Linked DNA regions of Homo sapiens. The gene in region 1 interacts genetically with each later gene. Each region holds a gene or a part of one and is shown in the gene's direction. Other genes may lie near its edges.

What was found.
Region 2: changes in ZMAT5 (region 1) and GNL3L together harm fitness more than expected from each alone (negative genetic interaction), as found in Homo sapiens cells (one large-scale study listed by BioGRID).
Region 3: changes in ZMAT5 (region 1) and EMG1 together harm fitness less than expected from each alone (positive genetic interaction), as found in Homo sapiens cells (one large-scale study listed by BioGRID).
Region 4: changes in ZMAT5 (region 1) and BOD1L1 together harm fitness more than expected from each alone (negative genetic interaction), as found in Homo sapiens cells (one large-scale study listed by BioGRID).

What each region holds. Positions count from the first base shown.
Region 1 is NC_000022.11:29,732,641-29,740,283, reverse strand, and holds part of ZMAT5 (zinc finger matrin-type protein 5), read left to right. Parts: intron 1-1,842; coding exon 1,843-1,954; intron 1,955-7,643.
Region 2 is NC_000023.11:54,543,704-54,551,556, forward strand, and holds part of GNL3L (guanine nucleotide-binding protein-like 3-like protein), read left to right. Parts: intron 1-519; coding exon 520-623; intron 624-4,525; coding exon 4,526-4,670; intron 4,671-7,259; coding exon 7,260-7,347; intron 7,348-7,853.
Region 3 is NC_000012.12:6,977,175-6,980,436, forward strand, and holds the end of EMG1 (ribosomal RNA small subunit methyltransferase NEP1), read left to right. Parts: coding exon of another isoform or gene 1-88; 3' UTR 89-192; coding exon of another isoform or gene 193-351; 3' UTR 352-423; coding exon of another isoform or gene 424-571; 3' UTR 572-1,166; coding exon of another isoform or gene 1,167-1,333; 3' UTR 1,334-1,428; coding exon of another isoform or gene 1,429-1,515; 3' UTR 1,516-2,296; coding exon of another isoform or gene 2,297-2,405; 3' UTR 2,406-2,762; downstream 2,763-3,262. Other genes in the region: LPCAT3 (lysophospholipid acyltransferase 5), read right to left, coding at 1-88, 193-351, 424-571, 1,167-1,333, 1,429-1,515, 2,297-2,405. UniProt on the Homo sapiens protein: S-adenosyl-L-methionine-dependent pseudouridine N(1)-methyltransferase that methylates pseudouridine at position 1248 (Psi1248) in 18S rRNA.
Region 4 is NC_000004.12:13,602,551-13,610,917, reverse strand, and holds part of BOD1L1 (biorientation of chromosomes in cell division protein 1-like 1), read left to right. Parts: intron 1-1,511; coding exon 1,512-1,623; intron 1,624-2,249; coding exon 2,250-2,388; intron 2,389-3,728; coding exon 3,729-3,801; intron 3,802-5,833; coding exon 5,834-8,367. UniProt on the Homo sapiens protein: Component of the fork protection machinery required to protect stalled/damaged replication forks from uncontrolled DNA2-dependent resection.

The sequences.
Region 1 (7,643 bases):
CTTACGACAGTCTAGGGATAAGGAGTTTAGGAACGCACCTTCCCTGCCCTCTGGAGTCTCACAGCCTGGTGATTCCAGGGAGGGGCAAGTTCAGCTTCCATGGAAACTGACATCTCGCCTTTGGGAAATTCACTCCTCTAGTTAGAGAACAAGGAAGTTCTGACTGAGATGGTGTTTATCAATCTTCTTCCACAGCCTCTCACTGAACAGGTGGGGAAACTAAGGCCAACATTCAGACTGAAAGGCCTCGCGTGAGCCCCCCAGCAGGTTGGGGGCAGACTCCAGGTCTCTCAGTGCCTGCCCCCTTAAGCTTCTCTGTCCAGGAGGCCTCAGGGTAGCCAGTGAAGGTCTGGGGCAGCTTGGCCTTTGCCCTGATCCCCCTACGGGCCTCACTCCCCTCTGACCAGTTAGACACTGCAGGCTCCGTGCCCTGCCCTGGGAGCCAGTGGTGCTGTGGCTGCAGCCCCGGGACCAACACAGGGTTTCCAGGAGCATTTTTCCCCAGGGTGGAAGCAAGGCCTTGTGGGACTGGCCAGCAAGTCCTGGCAGCAGCGGCAGCTGCAGCTCTTCCCTGGCTATGGGCTCTCAGAGGACGGCTGGCCCATGGTGGGACGAGCACGGGGCAGTGGGCCTGGAACTGGAGACGATGCCGAGCGGGGACAGGAATGGGGAGAGGCCCAGGGAGGCTGGGAACAGAGTCCCAGCTGGCAGCTCTGACAGTCCCAGCTCTGCCACGTCCTCTGTAACCTTGGTACGTGGCTTAACCTCTTGGAGGCTGTGTCCTGTCGAATGTGATGTCTCTAAGGATGAAGCAAGATGACACCTGTACAGCCCAGGGCCCGGCCCCAAGTGAGCTCCAGAGACCAGGGCCCGGCCCCGAGTGAGCTCCAGAGACCGAGGCCTGGCCCCGAGTGAGCTCCAGAGACTGGGGCCTGGCTCTGAGTGAGTGCTAGTCAAGTGTATGATTACTTTCCTCTGGCCCAAGACTCCATCCCAGATGACTTGGCGACTCTGACCCCATCAAACGCTCACACCCAGCTTGTATAAATTCCATTCGTTGATTGGTTTTAATTCGTTGAGCAACAGGTTTTGTTGGACAGCTTATGAGAATAAAAACCAGGGAAGCTGAGGCTCATTACCCTGCCCAGGGTCAAAGACCCGGCAGGTGACAGAGCTGAGATGTGACCCCATTCGACTGCCCTCACTGCCTCCCTGCACCTCAGATTCAGACCCCTCCTTAGGGCCAGGCTCTCTCTCTCTTTTTTTTTTTTTGAGATGGAGTTTCACTCTTGCCGCCCAGGTTGGAGTGCAGTGGTGCGATCTTAGCTCACTGCAGCCTCCACCTCCTAGGTTCAAGCGATTCTCCTGCCTCAGTCTCCCAAGTAGCTGGGATTACAGGCACCCACCACCACACATGGCTAATTTTTTTTATTTTTATTTTTAGTAGAGGCAGGGTTTCTCCATGTTGGCCAGGCTGGTTTCAAACTCCTGGACTCAGGTGATCCGCCCGCCTTGGCATCCCAAAGTGCTGGGATTACAGACGTGAGCCACCACGCCTGGCCAGGGCCAGGTTCTCTACAAGCACTGTCCTGTTTCCAGCTCCCCAAGAGCTTGGAGGCAGCCGGGGTTGTCTCTATTTGATGGGAAAACAGAGCGAGGCCGAGTGCTGGGCCCTCGTGCACAGATGGCCTGGAGAAGCAGTCCAGGTGCATCCTCCTGGAAGGTTGCTGCAACTTCCCAGGCTTGCTCAGGGCCTACCAGTTGCTTCTGCTTTGTGAGAGGGTAGGGTTCTGGCAGGCAGGAGTGTACCCCTCACTTGCCTTTGTCTCCCTGTCCCCACAGAGGAGAGGCGAGCCAGGGAGTGGCTACTAGATGCTCCTGAGCTCCCCGAGGGCCATCTGGAGGACTGGCTGGAGAAGAGAGCCAAGCGGCTGAGCTCAGCCCCAAGTAGCAGGTACAGGTCCCCAGGGTTCCCTCCCGCTGTGCCCCCTGGGGGCAAAACCCCAGCCCGCCTTCCCCTTCCTGAGGCTCAGGAATCTCCATGAACTGCCCAGGCCCAGGGGCCGAATAAAGTTGCCTACACATAGCTCCCCGAGGAGCCCTTGGGGCCCCAGGCCCTGGCCAGAGGCTGAGGGGTGTTTGAAAGAGCCTCTCCCAAAGCTGGGCCCCTGTTGGAGTCTGTGCTGGCTGGAGGGGAGGCAGGCGGCAGAGCTGATTTGGCTGCAAGTCACAAGTCCGTTGCCAGAGGGAGGGGCCTGGGCTGTGGTCACCATGCACTGCTGCCCACTGTTGCCTCTAGGGCCTTGCAGAAGGGAAAACAGGGAGGGTGCGACTTGCCCGAGGGCACACAGACGGGAAAATGTAGAGCCGGGATTGCACAGGCGTGATGACGAGGTCCTGGTCCCACTGCCTTTCTAAGGAAGGGGGTCTGGAGATGGCCCCAGCCCTCGGGACGCTCACAAGTAGAAGGGGAGCTGCTGGATCGGGGTCCTTGGGGTGTGTGCTTCGTGATGTCCCTGGTCCTCCTCTTTGAGGGAAGGGCCTCGGGTGATATTCACATCAGAACGGGGCACAGGGCAGGCAGGGGCAGACAAAGGCTGGCGGCCAAAACCGAAGCCTGAGCTCCTGGGCTCTTCCTCCAGCAGTTGAAGGAGGGAGGGGAGGAAAAGGGGATAAAGCTGCGCCCAGGAGCCGCATGCGACTTTGAACACGTTTTCCCATCCCGACTACCTTGCTTTCCCCATCTTGCAACGGGCTTCAGACCTGACTACCTCTGTGGTGTGGCTTCACAAAATGGTGGCCTGGCCTGGGCCAAGGGGACCTGGCCAGATAGTCTGGGGGAAGAGGCCTTCCCTTGGAGCTCTGCCAGGAGGTGAAGGCCAAACTTCTTGCCTTCTCTGTGCTCCAGTGAAAGAGACTATGAGGGTGTTTTTTTTCTTTCTTTCTTTCTTTTTTTGTGATGGAGTCTTGCTGTATTGCCCAGGCTGGAGTGCAGTGGTGTGATCTCAGCTCACTGCAACCTCTGCCTCTGGGTTCAAGCGATTCTTCTGCCTCAGCTTCCCAAGTAGCTGGGATTACAGGCACCCACCATCATACCTGGCTGATTTTTGTATTTTTGTAGAGATGGGGTTTTACCATGTTGGCCAGCCTGGTCTTGAACTCCCGACTTCAGGTGATCCGCCTGCCTCGGCCTCCCAAAGTGCAACGTGTTGGGATTACAGGCATGAGCCACCACACTCGGCTTTTTTTTTTTTTTTTGAGACGGATTCTTGCTCTACCGCCCAGGCTGGAGTACAGTGGTGCAATTGTCTCATTGCAAACTCCACCTCTTGGGGTTCACGCCATTCTCCTGCCTCAGCCTCCTGAGTAGCTGGGACTACAGGCACCCGCCACCACGCCCGGCTAATTTTTTTGTGTGTTTTTAGTGGAGACGGGGTTTCACCATGTTACCCAGGATGGTCTCAATCTCCTGCCCTCCTGATCCACCCGCCTCAGCCTCCCAAAGTGCTGGGATTACAGGTGTCAGCCACCGCGCCCAGCCTTTTTTTTTTTTTTTTTTTTTTTGAGATGGAGTCTCGCTCTGTCACCCAGGCTGAAGTGCAGTGGCACGATCTCGGCTCACTGCAACCTCCGCCTCCTGGGTTCAAACATTTCTCATGCTGCAGCCTCCCAAGTAGCTGGGATTACAGGCATGCACCACCATGCCCGGCTAATTTTTGTATTTTTAGTAGAGACAGAGTTTCGCTGTGCTGGCCAGGCTGGTCTCGAACTCCTGACCTCAGGTGATTCACCTGCCTCAGCCTCCCAGAGTGCTGGGATTACAGGCATGAGCCACCGCACCCAGCCAGTAAAGGTGTTTTAAAACTAACTTTGTCTTTTACCTTTATTTTAAATCCGTGTTCAGTTTTTGTCTCCCCACCTTAAAAGTATATGTGGTACAGACATGACTCAAACGTTGGAGTGTGACATTCTCTCCTCCTGGTCCTGTCTGAAGGGTCCCGTCTAAAGGGGTTCTATCCTGTCTTTGTGCATGTGAGCACCTCCTTTGGGACTGGTTGCTGTCCAGGGATCCACGTCCTACACCCCAGACTCCTTCAGCCCGTGTGCAAAAGGCTTGAGCTGGTTGGAGGCTGCCCAGAAAGCTCTGGCCCCTGCACCGCTACTTGGACAGGATCTCCTATGAGTCCCATCCTCACTCTGCCACCTGCTAACCGAGTTGCACCAGCCACTCGCCTCCCTGCTCTGGGTCCATGGTGTCCTCCGCTGGGAGCGAGTCACAGAGGCCCGGCTGTCTCTTGGGGCTGTGACAAGGTTTCATGGAGTCCCTGTGGCTGAACTGGAGTGAGCACCAATGGGTGGGGTAGAGATGGGGTGCCCCAGAGTCCTTGCCTGGGTTCCAGACAGATGCATCCCTGTGCTGAAACAAGGCGCTATGAATTTGAGACTTGGGGGACTAGGGTACCAGATGGGGAAACTGAGGCTGAATGACTGGCTCCTAGTCACAGGTTGAAGTGGTGACCATATGAGAATTGAGTTTGGTGCTTACAGTGTTCCCAGTGTTTGGGGGCATTCAGGGAGATTGGCACCCCCATTTTGCATCTGAGGAATCTTAACCTCTCCAGGAGGTGGGGCCATCCTGATCACACGTGCCCTGCTGCCCTTAGCCCTCACTTGAGAGAGAGCTAGGTCCCTGCTCTGTGTCTAGACCCCAGGCTGCCTCTGACACCAAGTTCAGGGCTGGCCCAAGGCTCTGTGTGGCTGTGGGTAGTGGCAGTGGCAGCAGCAGGCTGCCCTGATGGCAGTGACTGTTTTGGGAATGATTGTTCTGCAACTGGAGCCCACCTTGGCTGTAGGGGGTCTGAGCCCTGTGCTCTGGGCCATTGTCCCTCTGGCCACCCAGCCTGGCCCCTTCCAGGGGATCTGCCACCTGCCTTCCTCCTGCCTCCTGAGGGCTTGGGGCCAAAATGAATTGTTCTCTAGGCAGAGCAGGCCTGTCCAGCCTTGAGAAAAAGGGGCTGTGGGAAGGGAGGTGACCGTTTATTCCTGCTTTTGCCATTGCTGCCTTGGGCGTCCATAACTGTCTCCGGGCAGGCTGGTCTCCTGAAGCCTAGCAGCCTTTCCCTCCGTCCTGGGCTTTGAGCCCCTCCCCTGCATCCACACCCCCTACCCTGCTTAATGGGAGGGGGTGGATTCCAGCCCCAGCCCCCGCAAGGCTACCTCACTTTCTTCCTGGCTCCCTCTCCAGCCTGGAGGCAGTGCTGCAGCAACAATGTTCTTCCTCCACCCTGGCTCTCCTGGGCACCCCAGCGGCCCCTCCCTGGTCTCCCACCTTCCCTCTGCTCCCGCGGGGGATCCTCCACACAGCAGCCCTGATGCACCCTGGCCCTGGCGCTTCCCCACATCCTCCACCTCTGGCCGCACAGCCCCATTTGCAGGGCTGGGGCTGGGGCTGGGGCGGGGGACCCTCCCTGATGCCTCCGCAGCCAGTCGGATCTCACCTTCTCACCTCTTGCCTCTGGCCTGACTGGTGGTCCCACTGGACACTCGGCAGCAGCTTAGATGAGGCATCATTTGTGATTTTGGAGCACCTTGCGCATGCTATTTTCTTGCCTGAAACTGCCTCCCACCTCTCTGCCTGGCAGAGTCAGACTTGTCCTGGAAGCTCTAGCTGAGACATCACCCCTCCCAGCCCCCGCTTCTCCTGCATGGCCTGGGCAGACTTGGGGGTGCCCAGGACAGGTTTACTGCATGAATGAGCATTTAGGCTGCTGTTCGGGCGTTCCCCAGGTGTTAGTGCTGCGAGCCTTTTGTGGGGCCTGGTCTGGAAGCCTGGGGGACCCCCTCTTCCTCTCAGGGTATCTGCTTCCTCCCCCAGAGTACAAGGCACAGAGAGCTGCCCACCCCACCTCGGGGAACCGAGACCTGCGGGCTCCAACCTCCGCTGGCTGAGCTGAGCCTCTCCAGTGAGCCAGGCCAGCCCTCCTTGTAAACATGGGGAAGTGGGGGTCCATGAAGCCCCAGCCTGGTGGCATAGCTCTTATCCCCCTCCGCAGACTGACCCTGAGGGATCTGTCAAGAGCAGCGGCGGCCTCAGACACACAGACTAATCCCTCGGCAAGGCCAGGCCTGGCCCTGCTGCCCATTGTTGGCTCTTCAGTTTGCGACTCTATCCCTCTTAATCTCTCCTTTGCACCCCTCTCTGGGCGGGCGCTGCCATCCTGGCCCATCCTCCTCCTCGACTCTGTTTCCTCTGATTAGGACCGCGGCTGGGAAAATGCAAGAGAGTGGCTCCTGTCCTCACGCACAGGACAAACAGGTCACCAGAGAAGCTACGAGCAGAGTTGTGCCAGACACGCACCTCAATGTCCCCAAGGCTTTGGCTCACGTGTCTGGGGCCCTGGCAGTGTGCCAGTGTGTGTGAGCAGGCACTGGGTATGCCTGTCTACTGGCGGGACCTCAGGGCAGGCAGGGGCACGGGGCTGAGACTTGGACCCAGGAGGTCCCAGGTTCCCAGGAATCTGCCCCATTTTCTAGAGGAAGGGCCTGAGGCTCAGGGGAAGGGGCTCCCCAGGATCACACCCTCCCTGGGGATCCCCACTGTCCCTGTGGCCCTGCAGGGAGCCCAGGCTTGGCTGGCAGCTAGGGCACTCCCTTCCAGCAACTGCGGAGCCTCCCCGCCTTCTCTGCGGCTGGTGGAGTTTATGAAATCTCCCCAGTGCCATAAATCATGTCAAGAGCTGCCTTCTGCACTTTCTAGCAGGCAGTGAGCCATGAAGCAGGGGATGTCCCTGTCCTCTCACACCTGGGGGTCCTGGAGGCTGCACCCAGAGCTCCCCGGAGTCCTTGACTCTGCATGGCAGGTCTGGTCCAGAGAGGGGCAGGTTGGGTGGGTGCAGCAGGGGAAACTCCCAGGGCTCCTGACCCCGGCTCTCCACCTCCCCCTCGGAGGTCAGAGGCCTCTCCAAACCCCTCTCCGCAGGCCCAAGCCCTTCTCTCTCTGCAGAGGGCTGGCCACTGGGCCCCTGAGCCTGCCAGGAGCTGCCAGGGCCTCACCTTGCCTGAAGGCTGGATGTTGGGGTGTGGGAGTGTGCCAGAGCAGAGGGAGCTGAAGTGGGAAGGCCGTGTCTGCAGCCGATGTGGGGCTGGTATTCCAGGCCCTCAGGCCTCATCCCGAGGGTGTCACTTGGTCACGTGACTGACTCCTTGCACCTCAGTTTCCTCATCTATAAAATGGGGTTCGCCTGAGGATTCTTAAGGTTTCTCTAGGTCATGGTGTGTGGCCCAGAATAGCACCTGGTCAGTAAGATCTTTCAGCATTGCTGTTTGTTCCACAATCACTGGGTGGCCTCCTGGCACCAGGCCTGGCCCTGCGCCTTGGGGTACAAATACACCTTACCCCTATCCCCTGGTCTACATCCTCTGGGGACTCCAGTCCTAAGTGGAAGACAGATGAGCTCCTGCCTGAATTTTGGCGGCGGCTGCATGGCACTCTCTGCTGTGGATGTGGATGTGCATGTGTACTTTTTTTTTTTTTTTTTTTTTTTGAGAAGGAGTCTCGCTCTGTCGCCCAGGCTGGAGTGCAGTGGCGCGATCTCGGCTCACTGCAAGCTCCACCTCCTTAGTCCACGTCATTCTCCTGCCTC
Region 2 (7,853 bases), on another chromosome or scaffold:
ACACTGGATAAGTCATGCCACCTCCAAGAGCTCCTGTTTCTCTAGCTGTAAAATGGGCCATGGGTATCCCAACCTCACAGATTTGTTGTAAGAATTAATGATAAAATGCTTGGTACATGGTGGTCAGTACTTCACACATGATAGCCATTCTTTTTAGGGTTATCTTTGTCATTTGGCCCAACCTAGAATGATCCAGAGAGGGGATAGGAAACACAATATTTGGGGGGTCTCTGATGCTCCTGGCGCTGTTTTGGAAAGAGAACATTTGGGACCAGATAGCTAGTTTGTCCATTTTCCCTGAGGGAACAGAGGCCCCTTCAGGGAGGGCTAACGCATCCCGTAGACCAGACTATCCTTTCTAACTCCAACCTGCGGACTGGATGGGAATGACAGGGCCAGTTGAGAGACCTGTTGATGGTAGGTGGGCCTAGCTTTGGGTACGGGTGGAGGTGTCTTTGGAGGGAACCATGGAGGTGTTGTTCTGCTTACCAGCCCCATCTGTTCCTATATTTACCCCAGACCTGGTCCCCAAGGAGGTTGTGGAGAAATGGCTGGATTACCTTCGGAATGAGTTGCCAACCGTGGCTTTCAAGGCCAGTACCCAGCATCAGGTCAAAAACCTGGTAAGCCTGGGGCTAGGGTCATCTAGCCGCTTTCAGGGTAGTTTGGGGCCAGAGCTGGGAGGGTCGTGACTTGGACTGGGACCTCCAGCCCTTTAGTAATTGAACTGGGCCTTCAACTTTGAGCTTTTTGCTCCACCGAGTGACTTTTTTTTTTTTTTTTGAGATGGAGTTTCACTCTTATTGCCCAGGTTGGAATGCAATGGTGTGATCTCGGCTTACTGCAACCTCCACCTCCTGGGTTCAAATGATTCTCCTGCCTCAGCCTCCAAAGTAGCTGGGATTACATGCACGCGTCACCATGCCCTGCTAATTTTTGTAATTTTTTTATTTTTAGTAGAGATGGGTTTTGCCATGTTGACCAGGCTGGTCTCGAACTCCTGACTTCAGGTGATCCACCCACCTCGGCCTCCCAATGTGCTGGGATTATAGGCATAAGCCAACATGCCTGGCCAGTGACTTCTTAATATTAGTTTCACTTGACTTCTTCCTGTATTATCACTCTTCAGGAAGCATTTCTTTTTTTTCAGTTGTAAGGATAAAACATAATGTCTATAGGGAATTTGTAAAATACAGTTAACTACTTGTTTGTTTGTTTATTTATTTATTTGAGACAGAGTCTCACTCTGTTGCCCAGGCTGGAGTGCAATGGCATGATCTTGGCTTACTGCAACCGCTGCCCACCAAGTTCAAGCAATTCTCCTGCCTCAGCCTCCCAAGTAGCTGGGACTACAGGCATGTGCCACCATGCCTGGCTAATTTTTGTATTTTTAGTAGACACGGGGTTTCGCCGTGTTGGCCGGGCTGGTCTCAAGCTCCTGACCTCGGGTGATCCACCCGCCTTGGCCTCCCAAAGTGCTGGGATTACAGGCGTGAGCCACCACTCCCGGTCTAACTTTATTTTTTATTTTTTGAGACAGAGTCTCACTTTGTCACCCAGGCTAGAGTGCAGTGGCACCATCTCGGCTCACTGCAATCTCTGCTTCCTGGGTTCAAGTGATTCTTGTGCCTCAGCCTCTAGAGTAGCCAGGATTGTGGCTAAGTTTTGTGTTTTTTTTTTTTAGTAGAGATAGGGTTTCACCATGTTGGCCAGGCTGGTCTCGAACTCCTGACCTCAGGTGATCTACCAGCCTTGGCTTCCCAAAATGCTAGGATTATAGCTGTGAGCCACTGTGCACAACCAACTACTTGTTAACTTTAAAAAATACGTATACCTCCAATCATTTTTCTCTTTGAAACAAATCACAGTTCTTCCCAATTATATCATTAATAGAGAAATATGTATGGTTTGTAAAATATTAATACAGAAACTGATTGTTTCTGGGAGAAAAATTGGATACTAAGGGACATTTTTTTTCAATTTTGCATTGGATGTTAAACTTATTTAAAAATAAAGTAGAAAAAATAAAATTAACTACAGATAAAGCTTAAATACCCTTTCACCAGTCTCCCTAATTCTAGTCTCCTTTATTCATGCCCAGAGGTAACTACCATTGACAGTTTGGTGTGCATTCTTCCAGACTTTATTTATTTTAGATACAGATATTTAGGGTCTCAATTGGTCATCCAGGCCTCAGTGCAGTGGCGTGATGATAGCTCATTGCAGCCTCAAACTGCTGGGCTCAAGCCATCCTCCTGCCTCAGCCTCCTGAGTACCTTGGACTATAAGTGCATGCCACCATGCCAGGCTAATTTTTATCTTTTTTATTTTTGTAGAGATGGGGGGAGGGTCTTGCTTTGGTGCCCAGGCTGGTCTTGAACTCCTGGCCTCAAGTGACCCTCCCATCTCAGCCTTCCAAAGTGCGGAGATTACAGGCGTAAGCCACTGCACTCGGCCTTCTTCCAAATGTTATTCTGTGCTTTGGATATACATAGAAGTGTATATATAAAGAGGGAATACTGTTTGGAAGTATTATGTATATCATTCTGTGGCTTAGTTTTTTTTTTCTCTTGGACATCTTTCTATAGAGATGTGCCTTTTCGAGGCTGAATACAATTAGTTTCCAGTTTTTTATCGTTATAACCTGGGCTTCCACAAATACCCTTGTACATGTCTCCTTGGCACATGGGCAAGTGTGTGTTTGTAGGTGAGGTAGAGAAAGGGAGTGGCTGGGTCATAGCCTTTCTGCATTTTACCTTTACCTAGACACTGATGAATCACCCTCCGTGATGGCTGTACCAATTTATACTCCCACCAGTGGGGTAGATGAATGTGTGAGAGGCCTCTTTTCCTACACCCTTGGCAACATTTGATAGCATTAAACTTTTAAACCTTTCAGAAACATGATACCTTATTTACATTTTCTTGGCCTTTTTAAAATTTAAATTTAAATTTTTGTTGAGATGGAGTTTCACTCTTGTTGCCCAGGCCGGAGTGGGATGGCACGATCTCGGCTCACTGCAACTTCTGCCTCCTGGGTTCAAGTGATTCTCCTCCCTCAGCCTCCCGAGTAGCTGGGATGACAGGCATGTGCTACCACGTCTGGCTAATTTTGTATTTTTAGTAGAGACAGGGTTTCACCATGTTGGTCAGGCTGGTCTTGAACTCCTGACCTCAAGTGATCCACCTGCTTTAGCTTCCCAAAGTACTGGGATTACAGGTTTGAGCCACCGTGCCCAGCTTCTTGGCCTTTTTGATGGCAAAAATAGAAGCCGCCTTTTCTTTCTTTTTTTTTTCTTTTTTTTTTTTTTGAGATGACGTCTCACTCTATCTCCCAGGCTGGGGTGCACTGGTGCAATCTTGGGTCACTGCAACCTCTGCCTCCCGGGTTCAAGTGATTCTTCTGCCCCAGCCTCCCGAGTAGCTGGGATTACAGGTGCGTGCCACCACACCCAGCTAATTTTTGTATTTTTAGTAGAGACGTGGTTTTGCCACGTTGGCCAGGCTGGTCTTAAACTCGTGACCTCAAGTGATCCGCCTGCCTTGGCCTCCCAAAGTGCTGGATTACAGGAATGAGCCACAGCACCCGGCCAGAAGCCACCTTTTCTAACAGCTGTATTTCATTTGTATTCCACTTTAAGGCTACAGCTTTTTAACCTGTTTCTTATTGATGGATATATAGGCTAATTCCAATTTTGTGATATTGGAAACAATGCTGTGGCTGGGCGTGGTGGCTCATGCCCGTAATCCCAGCACTTTGGGAGGCCAAGGTGGGCAGATTGCTTGATGCCAGGAGTTTGAGACCAGCCTGACCAACATGGCGAAACTCTGTCTTTACTAAAAATACAAAAGTTAGCCGGGTGTGGTGGTGCATGCCTGTAGTCCCAGCTACTTGGGATGTTGAGGCATGAGAATCGTTTGAACCCAGGAGGTGGAAGTTGCAGTGAGCCAAGGTTGTGCCACCACACTCCTGCCTGGGTGACAGAGTAAGACTCTGTCTCAAAGAAAAAAAGTAAGGGAAGAGGAGGGAGGGAATTCTGGGCAGAGGAAGTGGCATCAGGAGTAAAGGTTGGGATGGCTTTGTCCTGTGTGAGGAATTGAGGGAGGGTAGGCTGTGGGCCAGGCTCCCTCTCATCCCTGCGCAGGCAGGGAGGGTGGGCATCCCTGTTGTGCACACAGGGCACTGAGGCCTGGAGAAGGGAAGCAGGCTTTGCTGGACATAGGCCTGTGAGAAGTAGACCTGGAGCTCAAACCTGGCCTATTTAGAGCCAGGATGCCATCCTGCCACTGCCGAGGGAGGCAAGTGACATGTGTCGAAGCAGACGCAGGGGCAGAGGAGACTGGAGACACAAAGACAGTGGAGGGGAATGGGGAAATGACACGTGTTCAAGATCTGTGTGAGAAGCCTTCCGTTTCAGGCTGAGGAGCTCAGTGATCATAGGGAGGCCCTGAAAGTTGGAAATCTGGGCTCAGACCTCATCTGCCACCTGATGTCTCTTCTGTGATATTCAATTTTTTTTTCCAGAATCGTTGCAGTGTGCCAGTAGATCAGGCCTCTGAGTCACTGCTGAAAAGCAAAGCCTGCTTTGGAGCTGAAAACCTCATGAGGGTTCTGGGGAACTATTGCCGCCTTGGTGAAGTGCGCACCCACATTCGTGTGGGTGTTGTGGGTAAGACCTGCTGTGTGGTCATGGGGCTCAGGCTTCTTTCTTGAGCGGACACTTCGCTGGGGGAAAGGATCCTGGGAGCTTCATTGTCTTTTGCGGGGAGAGAGGAGTGGTTCAGGAGAAGGGTTTCGTGATTTGTAACTTGGATGGGTGGGCATCACTGCGTATTGAGTATTAGATTCATGGAGCAAATACAGGGTGCCAGGCTTGGACTTGGTACCATCTCATCCTATCAGAGCTATGGGAGGATGGGGTGACCGTCTACCTTTTACGGATGAGAATTCTGAGTGAGGCTCAGAGAAGGGCAAAGGGACTTTTGGAGCCCAGCCCTGTGCAAGACAAGGCAGAGCTGAGGATCAAAACCTGGGCCTTTCTGGAGCACAAGTTTCTGAGGGAGGGATGATGGGAATGGAGTAGGGAAATTGAGAGAGGCAGAGATAGATCACCAGAGAAAGAATGTGAAGCCACGTGAGAAAGACATTGGAGAGAGAGCTAGACACTGAGAAGGTATAGGTATGCATACCAGGATAGATACAGAAGAAGACACAGAGAACGCACTGGGAAGCCAGATGGCAGGATTGGTGGGGAATGGAAAGAGGAGACAGATTTACATGATGGAGGCATGTAAAGAGGGAGATACAATCAGAAACACCAAAAGGGACATAGAAACAGACATGCATACAGAGATCTGCCGAGGGAGACATAGGAAGGGTAGAGATAACCCATGTATGTAGAGAGGCAGACATGTTTTCTCAAAGAATGAGAGAGAAAAACATACTACAGGGATAGAGACAGATTCAGAGAGAGACATACATGGAAGCAGACTGGACAAGGCTGTAGATACAGAGGAACACATACACATAGCTCTTAAGTACACATACAGATCCACAAACACATACACAGACCCACGCTACAGACCCAGAGATCCAGAGGAGGCACATCTAGCGAGACAGAACCACAGTCAAAATGCATGTAGACCAAGCCCTTCCCACACACACCCACCCCAACGCTGCTCCCCCAACGCGCATAGAACCACAAGGAGGGCTGGATGTAGCAGCTCATTCATGCCTGTAGCCCCAGCACTTTGGGAGGCTGAGGCGCACAGATCACTTGAGGTCAGGAGTTTGAGACCAGCATGGCCAACATGGCGAAACCCCATGTCTACTAAAAATACAAAAATTAGATGTGTGTGGTGGCGGGCATTTGTAATCCCAGGTACTCGGGAGGCCGAGGCAGGAGAATCGCTTAAATCTGGGAGGTGGAGGTTACAGTGAGTTGAGGTTACAGTGAGTTGAGATCGTGCCACTGTTGAGATCCAGCCTGGGCAACAGAGCGAGACTCCGTCTCAAAAAAAAGAAGACACGCATGTGCCCACATACACTTTGACCCTCGAACATAATCACATACCTAGAGTTACAGAGGGACACAAATACCAGACATGTCACTATGAGGCAGGTATGTGTACCTGTACAGAGAGAAATAGAGACATACAGAGAGGAGGTTAAGGAGGCGCAGACAGGGAGAGAGTAGAAGAGACACCGTGAGACACATACAGAGAGGCATCCATGAAGTGACCAGCCCACAGAGATGAGGAGCATGGACAGAGGCTGACAGGAGTTGGCATGGAGGGAATTACAAATAGAGGCAGGATTGGTGGGGTGGAGAGAATCAGAGAGAAAAGAACAATGGCCAGAATGAGAGACAGACAAATTGGCAGAGAAAGAGGTGCTTAGATACAGAGACACAGAGAGAAACAAAGATAAGATAGAGAAAGAGACTGAGTGGGAGAGATACAAGAAAAGGAAAAAGTGGTGATACTGAGAATGGGAATGACCGAGAGAGAGAGAGAGAGAGAGAGAGAGAGATGTGTAGAGACTTCCATGCATGGTGATAATTTAGAATGAGAATGACCTAGAGAGAGGGAGGGGGGAGAGAGGTGTGCAGAGGCTTCATGCACGAGAGGTATACTTAGACATATACCTTTTTTTTCTTTAGGCAATCAGCTTTCTCGGGTTGAAACAAGCATATGCTTGAGACAATAGTACACACATGTAAATTGAGCACATACAGAAAGAGAACGGTGAGAATGAGGCCCAGTGAGGGGAAACACAAAGACATCCACAGGCTGAGAATGGCTGACAGATGCACAAACAGCAAAATACACACCTCAGGTAGACAGCTGCACAGAGAGACTGGCATCTGGAGATGACCTCCATCCCCATCCATGGAATGATACACCCAGACAGGTTGTTCTCTGTTTCTTAGACATTTCTCGATGTCCACCTTCTGTTGGATTGTGCCACTGAGGCCTTGCATTGAGGACCTCTGCCTGGCTGATTGTGAGTGGGAGGTTGGTGTCACGTCTAGAAAGAGGGACATACCTATCTAGCATGCTCACAAATGGAGGGGAGAGGTAGAAAGGCCCTGTAGGGGCTTTGTCAGGGCCTGGGGTGGGAAGGGAGGAGGTCAGGCTCAATTTTTTGGCTTCCCCATGGCCTGGTTACTACCCCTGGCTAGGCCTCCCTCACACAGGCTGGCCTGAGTGTTCCTGAGGGCCTCTTCTGCCCTGAGCCATCTGCTGCTATTTTGTAGGTCTTCCCAATGTTGGGAAGAGCAGCCTGATCAATAGCCTGAAGCGCAGCCGCGCATGCAGCGTGGGAGCTGTTCCTGGAATTACCAAGTAAGCACCTGCCTGCTCCTCCACTCCACAATTCCTTGACCCTACCATTTCCCCCCAACTCCCATGCCTTCAGCCCCTGTCCCTTTCCTTATCATGGACCATCCCCTGATGCTTTCCCCAGGCATGGGAGTCTCATAGCCCTCATTTTCCTGATACACCCTAGGTGTGGGCCAGGTCCCCACATGGGTGGTTCCCATTAGCGCCTTGAAGCTTCTGAATAACGATGCAAGATTGGGCTACAAATGGGAGCTCTGTTGACTGGATGAAGCAGCTGAGGCTTGGAGAGTCAAGCTTGCCCAAGATCCTGCAGCTCAGTCCCCAGTGGCAGAGGATAGATTAGAATCAGCCTCAAGTCTGTAGAGCCCCAGTCACCCCTCCTCCAACTCTACATCTCTCCACCTTCGTCTCTAATGCACCCTCCCCTCACTCCTTTACACTCCCACATCCCAGGCCCACCTTCGTGATTGGGGCCTCTACGATGCCAGGTACATCTGGGCTTTCTTCTT
Region 3 (3,262 bases), on another chromosome or scaffold:
TTGGCACCATTGCTTTGTGAATATAAGGCAATATGAATAGTAGGCTCAGGAAGAAGATGTGGCCAAGGAAATAGATGGATTTATACACCTGTGGAGAGAGAGGCCACTAAGGTAGACAGGCCTGGAGTGTCCTTTGCAACCTTTGAGGTTGCAGTGAGTCCCTCCCAGTCTCACAAGCAGGCCTTCACTTGCCTTAAGCCATTTGTCCCACGTGAAGAGGCAGAAGGCAGTCATGGAGTAACCCATGAAGAGCCAGTGGATGGTCTGTTGCACCAAATAGTAGAAGGGCTGGAGGACAGTAATGGCGGCCAGCTTGCTCAGGGTGGGGCTCTCTTGAATGAGCCTGGCAGCCTGGGGAGGGAGGAGGAGCTCATCAGCATCTTGTCCCTTATATTCCCCTTCACCCCCACCCTGGAGGCCTACCTGTCTTTCCACAATAACAATGAGGAATTCCATCTGGAAGCAGACCAGGTATCCTGAGTGCAGGCCGTGCCAGAGGGCCAGGAATAGCAACGAGAGACCCTGAGAGAGTTCTTTATTTCCAAGGAACTTGAGTCGTTTGAAGATGTAGCTGGAGAAAAGGGTGGGTGGGGCGACCCTCAAACTGACTGGTCCTTGCATCCCGCCACCTGCCTCTGGGTCCTCACCCTGAGGATTGGATTGGAGTGCTGGTGGGTTCCCACGTGTAGCCCCCAGAGGGTACAGGAGGCAGTGCTGACTGATTACTTTTAGAGATGGAAAGCAGACCCAAGGCGGAGCTGGAGACCGTGTGCGCACGAGCCACTTGGTTCAGCAGCAGTGACTGAGGCTGATGCTGAGATCAGTGGTGAACCAGACACTCTACTCAAGCTGCCCACACTCTAGTGGTGGGGACAAACAAGTAAAGCTGTTGATAAACAGGGCAGTGGAGGACATAAGTCCATTGGCAGAGCTGGAGTAACACCCAGGTCTTAACGCACTTTTATATCTTGCCTTTTTTTCAAATATGACAGTAATGGTTTTTTTGGGAGGGGGGTATAGGTGGGGGTCAAAGTCAGTGTGAGCGACAGGGGGTTCTGCCCAGATGGGAAAGACGCATAGGGGTGACATGGTACACCCCTGCCCTCCAATCTGGGAAGACAGTGGAAGGAAGGAACCAGGGTCCAGGCTCCCCACCAGCAGCTCACCGGGCCACCCAGGCGTTGGTGTTGATGTTGAATGAGGCAATGGTGCCAGTGAAGCGGGGGTTTGTTTCAAAGAGCCACACCTTCATGTTGGCACAGGCATCCCACTTTGCCTTGCCCTTTTCTTCAAAGCCATTGAAGCCCAGGCCCGTCAAAATGCATACTCCTTCCTGAGAGGGAATAGCTCAGTTAGGGCTCTTGCCACTCCCCATACTGGCCCCCATGGCTTGTCTAAATAGGACCTTGTTTCAACTTTTCTACTTACTGTGACCAGCCAACAGGTGACATATTTGTACAGCACAAACTTGCCCCAGATCAGCATGTACATGCAGCGGAACCAGAAGGGGTGGTTCTTGAGGGAAGAAAGCACAGTGCATTAGGGATATCACATGACTAGGCAGTTTCTCTCAGCACTCTTCCTTTTCACACTTGTGGCTGGCTACTTCATACCTGCCTGAGTCCTGCTGCCAGATGCCCTCAATAGTCTGGCCTGATTGCCTTCACAATAGGCAGAGAGGAATAAGCAGAGGGCCTGGAGAATATTCATTCGCCTTTCCCTTGGAGAGCCTCAAGGGCAGCACTGTATTTAACTTCTCTACTGTTTGCCTTCGTTGGCAAAGTGTTTGGAATGAGCATTTGGAATGTTAAGTACAGAGGGGCCCATATTGGATTTTAATTTAAGGAGAGAAACCTGCCCAGAATTACTGAACTGTTTTCAAGCCTTTCAGCTGGGCAGGAGCAAAAGCCAGCACTTCCCCCCTTCCCTTGGTTTCTGAATTCCCTAGAAGTGCCCAAATGTATCAGTCAAGAGAAGAAAATAGGATGGAGAATCAGAAGCTGCTGTGCTCTGAGGGGTCACGTGGATGTGATAAGGCAAGCTAGGAGCGGCTCCTAGAGAAGGCAACGGGTGCTAAATGTGCACCTGGCACAGCCCTGTGCCCGCGAAGGTTGTTCAGTGCTGGCTGATGAACATGTCCCAGCACGGCTGGCATTGACAACTCACAGATCTAGAGCAAAACCAACATGCACTTGTAGATGATATTTCCTACTTCTCTGCTATCTGTAGGGATCCTTGCCTGTCCATTTTCTAGCTCTGGTGCAGTCATGCTGCTGCTGCTTTAGTAGACACTCACGTCATAGTCTTCAGTGAGGAGATAGTCTTCTGTGATGTGGGGGCTGAGCAGTGTGTAGCCCACTAGGTAGAAAAGGCCCAGACTCAGGCGCTTGAGAGCAGGAATGATGCTGGAAAGGAACGAGTGAAGTTCCTGGTCACAGAGAGCAGAGACTATTCCCTTCACCCTCTGACCTTCAGTTATGGAGAGGAGTGTTTAGGGGTGTGGTTGTCTACCTGGAATGGGATGAGAAGCTCTGCTGCCCAAAGTGTTTCCTGTTTCAGGGAAAGATTTCTATGGCTGGCTATGAGGAATGGGGACTGCAAACCTCTTAAGAGTTGTAGGAAAGTCAGGGCAGCAGACAGTGGACCAGTCTTGTGTTTACCCCTCAGGGATGCTACTGATCTCAAGGTCTTGCCAGGTCTCACAATCTCCATTGGGACTGAAAACCCAGTGGAGGTAAGATAATAAAAATAACCACTTTGAATCTGCTCCTTCATTTCTTGGTTGAATTGATGCTGAAACACAGGATGGACAAGTTCTCAGTGAAGGAATTCTTCTGGCAATTAAACTTTTTTTTTTTTTTTTTTTTTACCATTTTAATTTTTATTTTCTAGAGTCAGGGCCTTGCTCTGCCACTCCGGCTAGAGTACAGAGGCATAGTCATTGCTCGCTGTGGCCTTGAACTCCTGGGCTCAAGCGATCCCCTTGCCTTGGCCACCTGAGTAGCTGGGACTATAGGCATGTACCACCTTGCCTGGATAATTTTTTTTTGTAGAGATGGGGTCTCACTATGTTGCCCAGGCTGGTCTTGAACTCCTGGCCTCCAGTGATCCTCCTGCCTTGGCCTCCCAGAGCGTTGGCATTACAGGCATGAGCCACTGTGCCCTCCTGCATTTCCTACTGATAAATATTTTTGAGACAGGATTTTGCTATGTTGCCCAGAATGGAGTGCAGTGGTGTGATCAAAGCTCACTGCAGCCTTGA
Region 4 (8,367 bases), on another chromosome or scaffold:
CTGTTATTTTAACCTACTACATCAGGTTAACAAACTTAAATAGTCTATCTGCAAGGTACTGATGTGCATATGAAGCAGAGACATACAGGATTTGCCTTCAGGAAACTTGTCATTTAACTAGGTAGAGTAGATGTAAACATGTGACAGAGATGTTTGTGTCATCATTACTAATACAAGTGAATATCCCTTATCCGAAATGGGTGGGACCAGAGGTGTTTCAAATTTTGGAATTTTTCACAATTTGGAATATTCGCATATACATAGTGACAAATCTTAGGGATGGAATGCAAGTCTAAACATGAAATTCCTTTGTGTTTCTTATATGTATATGCACATAGCCTGAAGAGTATTCGATACAATGTTTTTCATAATTTGGTGCATGAAACAAAGTTTTGACTGCATTTTGACTGCCACCTGTCACATGAAGTCAGGTGTGGAACTTTCCACTTGTGACAGCATGTCAGTGCTCAAAGAGTTAAGATTTTCAGATGAGGGATGCTCAACCTGTAGTAGTGAAACTGGTAACAACCTGAGTGCTTCACAGTATGGAAATGTTTAAATCAAGTGTAGATCCAGTCCTGCAAAAATACAGTATGCAGCTATTAACATACTATTGATATGGAAATGCTATTTACCTATTTCTTGGATTCAAAAATATTTCCAATTATAAAATGTACCACTGAATTAATAACAGCTTTTTAAAGAAAATTACTACCTTATTGTTACATATGTATATTGGTTTTAAGATAGCTTACAATTTCAGAAACATTAAAATATGAAAAGTTGTAAAATATGAAAAGTTCAGAATCAGGAAATATTGTCACATAGGAAAATGATTTGAAGAAACTACCCCAAAATGCTAGTAGTGATTAGCCTTCCCTTCAGGCTTATCTTTTGAAAACATTACTTGGTTAGAAGTTATGCACCTGCTTAGGATTTTTGGCACTCTGAGCCAGAAAGAGATAGTAGGAATAGCACAATGACTGTGAATTCTTTCTGCTGTAAAAGACCTGCAAGTCCTGAGTCCCTTGGGTCCCAAGCATATAACCAGCAAGTCATATATGTTGTAGAACTAGCCTATCACTTGAATTTTTATTTCAACTGTTTTCTATAAGAACAGTTGAAAAGTTATAAACACCTACCTATATATACTTGATGTTCATAGATATTTTCACAGCTATCATTTTAATTGAAACAACCAGCTTATTTAATCACTTTTCCCCAAAATTATACCTTTCCCTTTCTTTAATGGCATTCTTAAAGAGTAATGGCAAATTTTCACATCTGTTTCTTCTATTCTGGTAGCTTCTAGATTGAAACATACACATACATATGTATGTATACACACAGAGATAAATGTGTGTATATATATGTAGTGTATGTGCATTTTTTCAGAGCCCGTTAATTTGTAAGAACATCTGAAGGGTAAACTAAAACTTTAAAAAAAATACAATTTTTCAGTGTGTTTTTGCCTTTGCCTAATAATCTGTTAGGGTATTTTGTGGTTTTAGGCCAAAGAAAAAGAAGAGAGGCTTTTAAGAAGGCAAATCAATAGAGAAAAACTTGAAGAAAAACGAAAACAGAAAGCAGAAAAGACAAAGTCTTCAAAAACCAAGGGTCAAGGTATAGATGTCAACTTTTAATATTTTAAACTATCTCATATATTTCATTATTTTCTGGGTACTCTTATATTACTTATGAGACATGAATATAAAATAAAATGATCTAGTCTCAAATGTGGAAGATTTCCTTACGTTTTAATCTCATGTGTTTCATCATTTTTCTTTTTTATTAAATTGCTAAATCTAAATTAAACATTTTACCAGAAACCAGCTTATGCAACTCATTTGTTAGCAGTATATTTTTCTGTAATGATTGAATCACTGGAAAGTAGATTGTTAACACATGAGTTATCAACCCTTGCTGGTGATTAATGAAATTAATCTATGCTTATGTTAACTAAAATGTCAAACATTTCCCTGTAATATTGTGTTGAACAAAATTGTATTCCCTCTGGGCACTAATCCTATGTAATATATGAAATCACACATACACACACTTATGTGATCATTTGAAATAAGAGAGATAAGACTTCTTCATCCAAAATATTATATCTATTCCAGCACAACTTAAGAATATTAAAGCCATTTTGGCTTTAACAATGATTAGAAAAATCTTAATGAAAAATTAATATTACATTGTTTGTAAAACTTTTCTGAAATACGTTTTATTGATTGCTTCTTTTCTAGGCAGGAGTAGTGTGGACTTAGAAGAATCATCAACAAAGAGTTTGGAACCTAAAGCCGCCAGAATTAAAGAAGTCCTTAAAGAACGGAAAGTTTTAGAAAAAAAAGTAGCCTTAAGCAAAAAGAGAAAAAAAGATTCAAGGTACATATTTTATCTGGTCATGTTTCCCTTATAACACTCCCCTGGGTGCTTTCAGAAGAGAGGAATTGAAGTGACAGTAAAGAGTTGTACTTTGGTTGTGTATGTTACTGCATGTTTATGAAGGACCTTAGGGTTTCATATTTAGTATCAAAATGTTAATATCTATAACATTTCTAAGTAGTGTATCCTAATCTTTTTGGGCGTCCCAGATCTTTTTGATAATTTGGTGAGAGCTTTAGACCCTCTCCCCTGAAAAATGTACATGCATAAGCTAACAATTATCCCTAGACTTTAAGAGTTTATGAATCCTCTAGAAGTTCCCTGGAGGTATTCCTCTTGTTGGTGTTCAGTAACCACTTATTTTCAATTATTATTTCCAGTCTTTCCATGCCGTTATTTTTACCAGTATTCCATGATTCTCCCCCAACCCAGAATCTGGGCCAGATTCCTTATTAACCCTGCATTATCATCGTTAACTTTTTAAGAATTAGAAAGCTAAAGAGACTCTTGAGGGTAGCTATGAAGTCATGTGAGCCATGGGCTGCAATTTTGCTATTCCATCAAGTTGCATTTATGTAAATTTATCACAGACTTCAGGATAACTGATTTGATAATTTGCAGAACTTGGTAAGAGTAGTAAGCTCTCAAATTTCTTACTATTATTACCTCTCATCCTTATTGATCTGAATAAATAAGACTGCCCTCTTTACTCAAAAGATAGTAATTTTGAAGTGTAATTATAGCCCATAAAGCATTCATCTTTAAGCAACAAATTAGGAATTTTTGTTTCAGCTGTACTTTCCTTTAGCACCAAGAACAGTTAATGCTATGTTTGGGATTGTGCTCTCCTTTGTTGACCAATAATTGATAGGATTTAAATTGAAATGTAACAAGTCTGCATTTGTCGATCAAGTGTATAAATTATAGTAAACAGCTGGGCGCGGTGGCTCACGCCTTTAATCCCAGCACTTCGGGAGGCAGAGGCGGGTGGAACACATGAGGTCAGGAGTTTGAGACCAGCCTGACCAACATGGTGAAACCCTGTCTCTACTAAAAATACAAAATTAGCCAGGCATTGTGGCGTATGCCTGTAATCCCAGCTACTTGGGAGGCTGAGGCAGGAGAATTACTTGAACTCAGGAGCGGAGATTGCAGTAAGCCAAGATTGCGTGATTGCACTCCAGCCTGGGCAACAAGAGCAAGACTCCACCTCAAAAAATAATAATAATAAAATAAGATAAATAAAAATTATAGTAAAGGAAAGATTTTTATTGTTTTCAACCTTCCTGAAAAATTTTCGTATTTGATTCATGCTTTATATTTGACTCTTTCCCCCTTAGGAATGTTGAAGAGAACTCCAAAAAGAAACAGCAATATGAAGAAGATTCCAAAGAAACCCTTAAAACAAGTGAGGTATGCCTTAATAAAACCTCATTTCAAATGCTGTTTTGTTAGATATAGGCTGTTTATTCCTTTGGAGTAAAACTTAGAATGTAATTTGACTTTTTTCAAGTCAAATAAAAAGTCAACTTACATTCAGCATTTTTGAAACCCCATTTTGTTATGTCCCAAATTGCCCATTTTGTTGAGTTGATTTATATATTTGTCGTTTATCTAGGTAATAGCTACTCTTCTTCTCTTTTCCCATTTCTTATAATTGCAATAACAAAAATGCCAGTAATGACAAAAAAAGAAAAAGGGAGGCTAAAATTAAAATCTAAAATCCCTCCACTATAACAAATTATCCTTTTTATTCCCTCTCATTCCTTATCCACGGGTCCACATAATTTTTTAGAGTACAAGTAATCTGGCAAACTGTTTTTAACATTTTACTCATTTCATGTTACCTTCTAGGCATCCTAATTATTTAATGATTGTCTAGTGTTACATATAATGTACATACCATAATTTATTTAAGCATGTCCTTATATTTTAGCGCTTAGGTTGTTTCCAAGATTTGATCATTTTAAACAGTAAAAGTAACGTACAATGTTTTCTTCCCCCTTTCAGGATTATTTTCGTGGGACAAACTTTTGCTTTCACTGTTTTAAAATTCTTTTTTACAAAAACCACATTATCTGTAGTTCTGTAGCTAAACTATCTTAATATTTCCAGAGGGAAAAAGCAATGTTAGTGATTATTTGTTCATCATCAGCAAACATAAATTTAATTTATTTACTCAGAAATTAAAGGCGTATTTAGAAGTATATAGTGATGGCTTAATGACATATTTTTAAATATTTAACTTTCTTTTATGATAATTCTCTATAAGAAATTATCTCATAAAATAGTATTCACATTGCTTAGAATTAGTTTTTTATTGTGAAGTTGATGCAAACTCCTGTTAGTTCTTTGAGGAATTTTATTTTAAGCTATTTAATAAGGTCTTGTTATGTCCTGGACCCTGTTATTAGTAGAAGTACATTAATCTTTGTGTTGACATTTAAGGAGATGAAGTGTTAAACTGACCTAGAGGCACAAAGGTCCGTCTGAACTTTGGCCCATTATTTGCATAAGAATAATTATAGCTAGTAGTCAGTGAGTATTATTGAAGTGGATTTAGTCAACCTCCACTCATTAATATTAATCGCCTACTTAGTGCCAAACCACAGGGCCAGAAGGAAGGTTTAGATGCTCTTGTCTCTCCGTATCTTTTTTTGAATACATAAACATATACATATGTTATATATGATATGGTTACTGTGCGTTATTGTGTACATTTGAAGCTTCATGTGTAGAATATTGTACAAGTAGCCTAAATTCATGAGGTTTCCATACATAATTCAGCTTTTTAAATTAAAATATAGGAAATCTATATTTCAGTATATTTCAATTTTAAATTGCCTTCATGTATTATGTTTTTGACTGAAAAGGACATTTGACTGTCATTTATTCAGCTCATATTTATTATTGAGTACTGGGCATTAGTGAGTTCTAGTGATTCAGAATTGAAGAATTCATAGACAAATCAGTGCCTGTGATATACTGGAAGGAGTACTAGACTCGGAATGAAATAATCTAAACTCATTCCTAACACACCTACTTGTGGTCTGAGTGTCAAGTTATAGAATCATGCTGAGCTACAATTTCCTGATGTTTTAATGGCATATTTTTAAGTATTTAACTTTATTTTGTGATAAATCTCTATGAGAAATAATCTCATAAAATTGTTCATATTGTTTAGAATTAGTTTTTTTATTGTAAAATATGGTTGTTGCAAACTCCTGTTAGTTCTTTGAAGAATTTAGCTTCTTAAAATCAAGTTAATAATACTTATTTTTTAAAATCAGGTGAGTTTTTGACACCTACACAGGCTGTTTGTAAGAATTAAGTGAGATGTTACATATGTGACAGCACTCAACATATTAAATCCACCCAAATGTTATGTTTTAATCTAAAAATTGATTTTGGTATTTCTCATATTTTAACCTTTGTTTTCTTTCAGCATTGTGAAAAGGAAAAAATTTCTTCTTCAAAGGAGCTGAAGCATGTTCATGCAAAAAGTGAACCAAGTAAACCTGCCCGGAGACTTTCAGAGTCTTTGCATGTAGTTGACGAAAACAAAAATGAATCCAAATTAGAAAGAGAACATAAAAGACGGACATCTACCCCTGTTATCATGGAGGGGGTACAGGAAGAGACTGACACAAGAGATGTAAAAAGGCAAGTAGAACGCTCAGAAATTTGCACCGAAGAGCCCCAGAAACAGAAAAGCACACTTAAAAACGAAAAGCATCTAAAGAAAGATGATTCTGAAACACCACATTTGAAAAGCCTACTTAAGAAAGAGGTGAAATCCTCCAAGGAGAAGCCTGAAAGAGAGAAAACTCCATCGGAAGACAAATTGTCTGTGAAACATAAATATAAAGGTGATTGTATGCATAAAACAGGTGATGAGACTGAGCTTCACTCTTCTGAGAAAGGTTTAAAAGTAGAGGAAAATATTCAAAAGCAAAGTCAACAAACAAAGCTTTCTTCAGATGATAAAACCGAACGAAAAAGTAAACATAGGAATGAAAGGAAATTATCAGTATTAGGCAAAGATGGAAAGCCAGTTTCTGAATATATTATAAAAACAGATGAGAATGTTCGTAAAGAAAACAACAAAAAAGAGAGACGCTTGTCAGCTGAAAAAACTAAGGCAGAGCACAAATCAAGAAGGTCAAGTGATTCTAAAATTCAGAAAGATTCTCTGGGTTCCAAGCAACATGGTATCACATTACAGAGAAGAAGTGAAAGTTATTCGGAAGATAAGTGTGATATGGACTCCACTAACATGGATAGTAATTTGAAACCAGAAGAGGTTGTTCACAAGGAGAAACGACGAACAAAGAGCTTGTTAGAAGAGAAACTTGTGTTGAAGTCTAAATCAAAAACTCAAGGCAAACAGGTAAAAGTTGTAGAAACAGAATTACAAGAAGGTGCCACAAAACAGGCAACCACTCCAAAACCAGACAAGGAGAAGAACACAGAAGAAAATGACTCAGAAAAACAGCGTAAGTCTAAAGTTGAAGACAAACCTTTTGAAGAAACTGGTGTTGAACCTGTATTAGAGACTGCTTCTTCTTCAGCACATAGTACACAGAAGGATTCTAGTCATAGAGCCAAGTTACCATTAGCAAAGGAGAAATATAAGAGTGATAAAGACTCCACTTCCACCAGGCTTGAGAGAAAGTTGTCAGATGGCCACAAAAGCAGAAGCTTAAAGCATAGTAGTAAAGACATAAAAAAGAAGGACGAAAATAAATCAGATGACAAGGATGGTAAAGAAGTTGACAGTAGTCATGAAAAGGCCAGAGGTAATAGTTCACTCATGGAAAAGAAATTAAGTAGAAGGTTGTGCGAAAATCGGAGAGGAAGCTTGTCACAAGAAATGGCCAAAGGAGAAGAAAAATTAGCAGCAAACACTTTGAGCACTCCCAGCGGTTCCTCCCTTCAGAGACCAAAAAAGAGTGGTGATATGACATTGATCCCTGAACAAGAGCCAATGGAAATTGATTCTGAGCCAGGTGTTGAAAATGTGTTTGAAGTATCTAAAACCCAAGACAACCGCAATAATAATTCTCAGCAAGACATTGACTCTGAAAATATGAAACAAAAAACTTCTGCCACTGTTCAAAAGGATGAATTGAGAACTTGCACAGCAGATTCAAAAGCAACAGCTCCAGCTTATAAGCCAGGCCGTGGAACAGGAGTTAATAGTAATTCTGAAAAGCATGCCGATCATAGAAGCACCTTGACCAAGAAAATGCATATACAAAGTGCTGTGTCCAAAATGAACCCTGGGGAGAAAGAACCCATTCATAGAGGAACTACTGAAGTGAATATAGATTCTGAAACTGTTCATAGAATGTTACTGAGTGCCCCATCAGAAAATGATAGGGTACAGAAGAATTTGAAAAACACAGCTGCTGAAGAACATGTTGCTCAAGGAGATGCCACTCTTGAACATTCCACAAATTTAGACTCCTCACCATCCTTAAGTTCAGTGACTGTTGTGCCTCTGAGGGAATCGTATGATCCAGATGTAATTCCTCTGTTTGACAAAAGAACTGTTTTGGAAGGTAGCACAGCCAGCACCTCCCCTGCGGATCACTCTGCTCTCCCTAACCAAAGTCTGACTGTTAGGGAATCAGAAGTCCTTAAGACAAGTGACAGCAAAGAAGGTGGTGAAGGTTTCACAGTAGATACACCAGCAAAAGCAAGCATCACTAGCAAAAGACACATTCCAGAAGCTCACCAGGCTACTTTATTGGATGGTAAACAAGGAAAGGTAATCATGCCTCTTGGAAGTAAGTTAACGGGCGTGATTGTGGAAAATGAGAATATTACCAAAGAAGGTGGCTTAGTGGACATGGCCAAGAAAGAAAATGACTTAAATGCAGAGCCCAATTTAAAGCAGACAATTAAAGCAACAGTAGAGAATGGCAAGAAGGATGGCATTGCTGTTGATCATGTTGTAGGCCTGAATACAGAAAA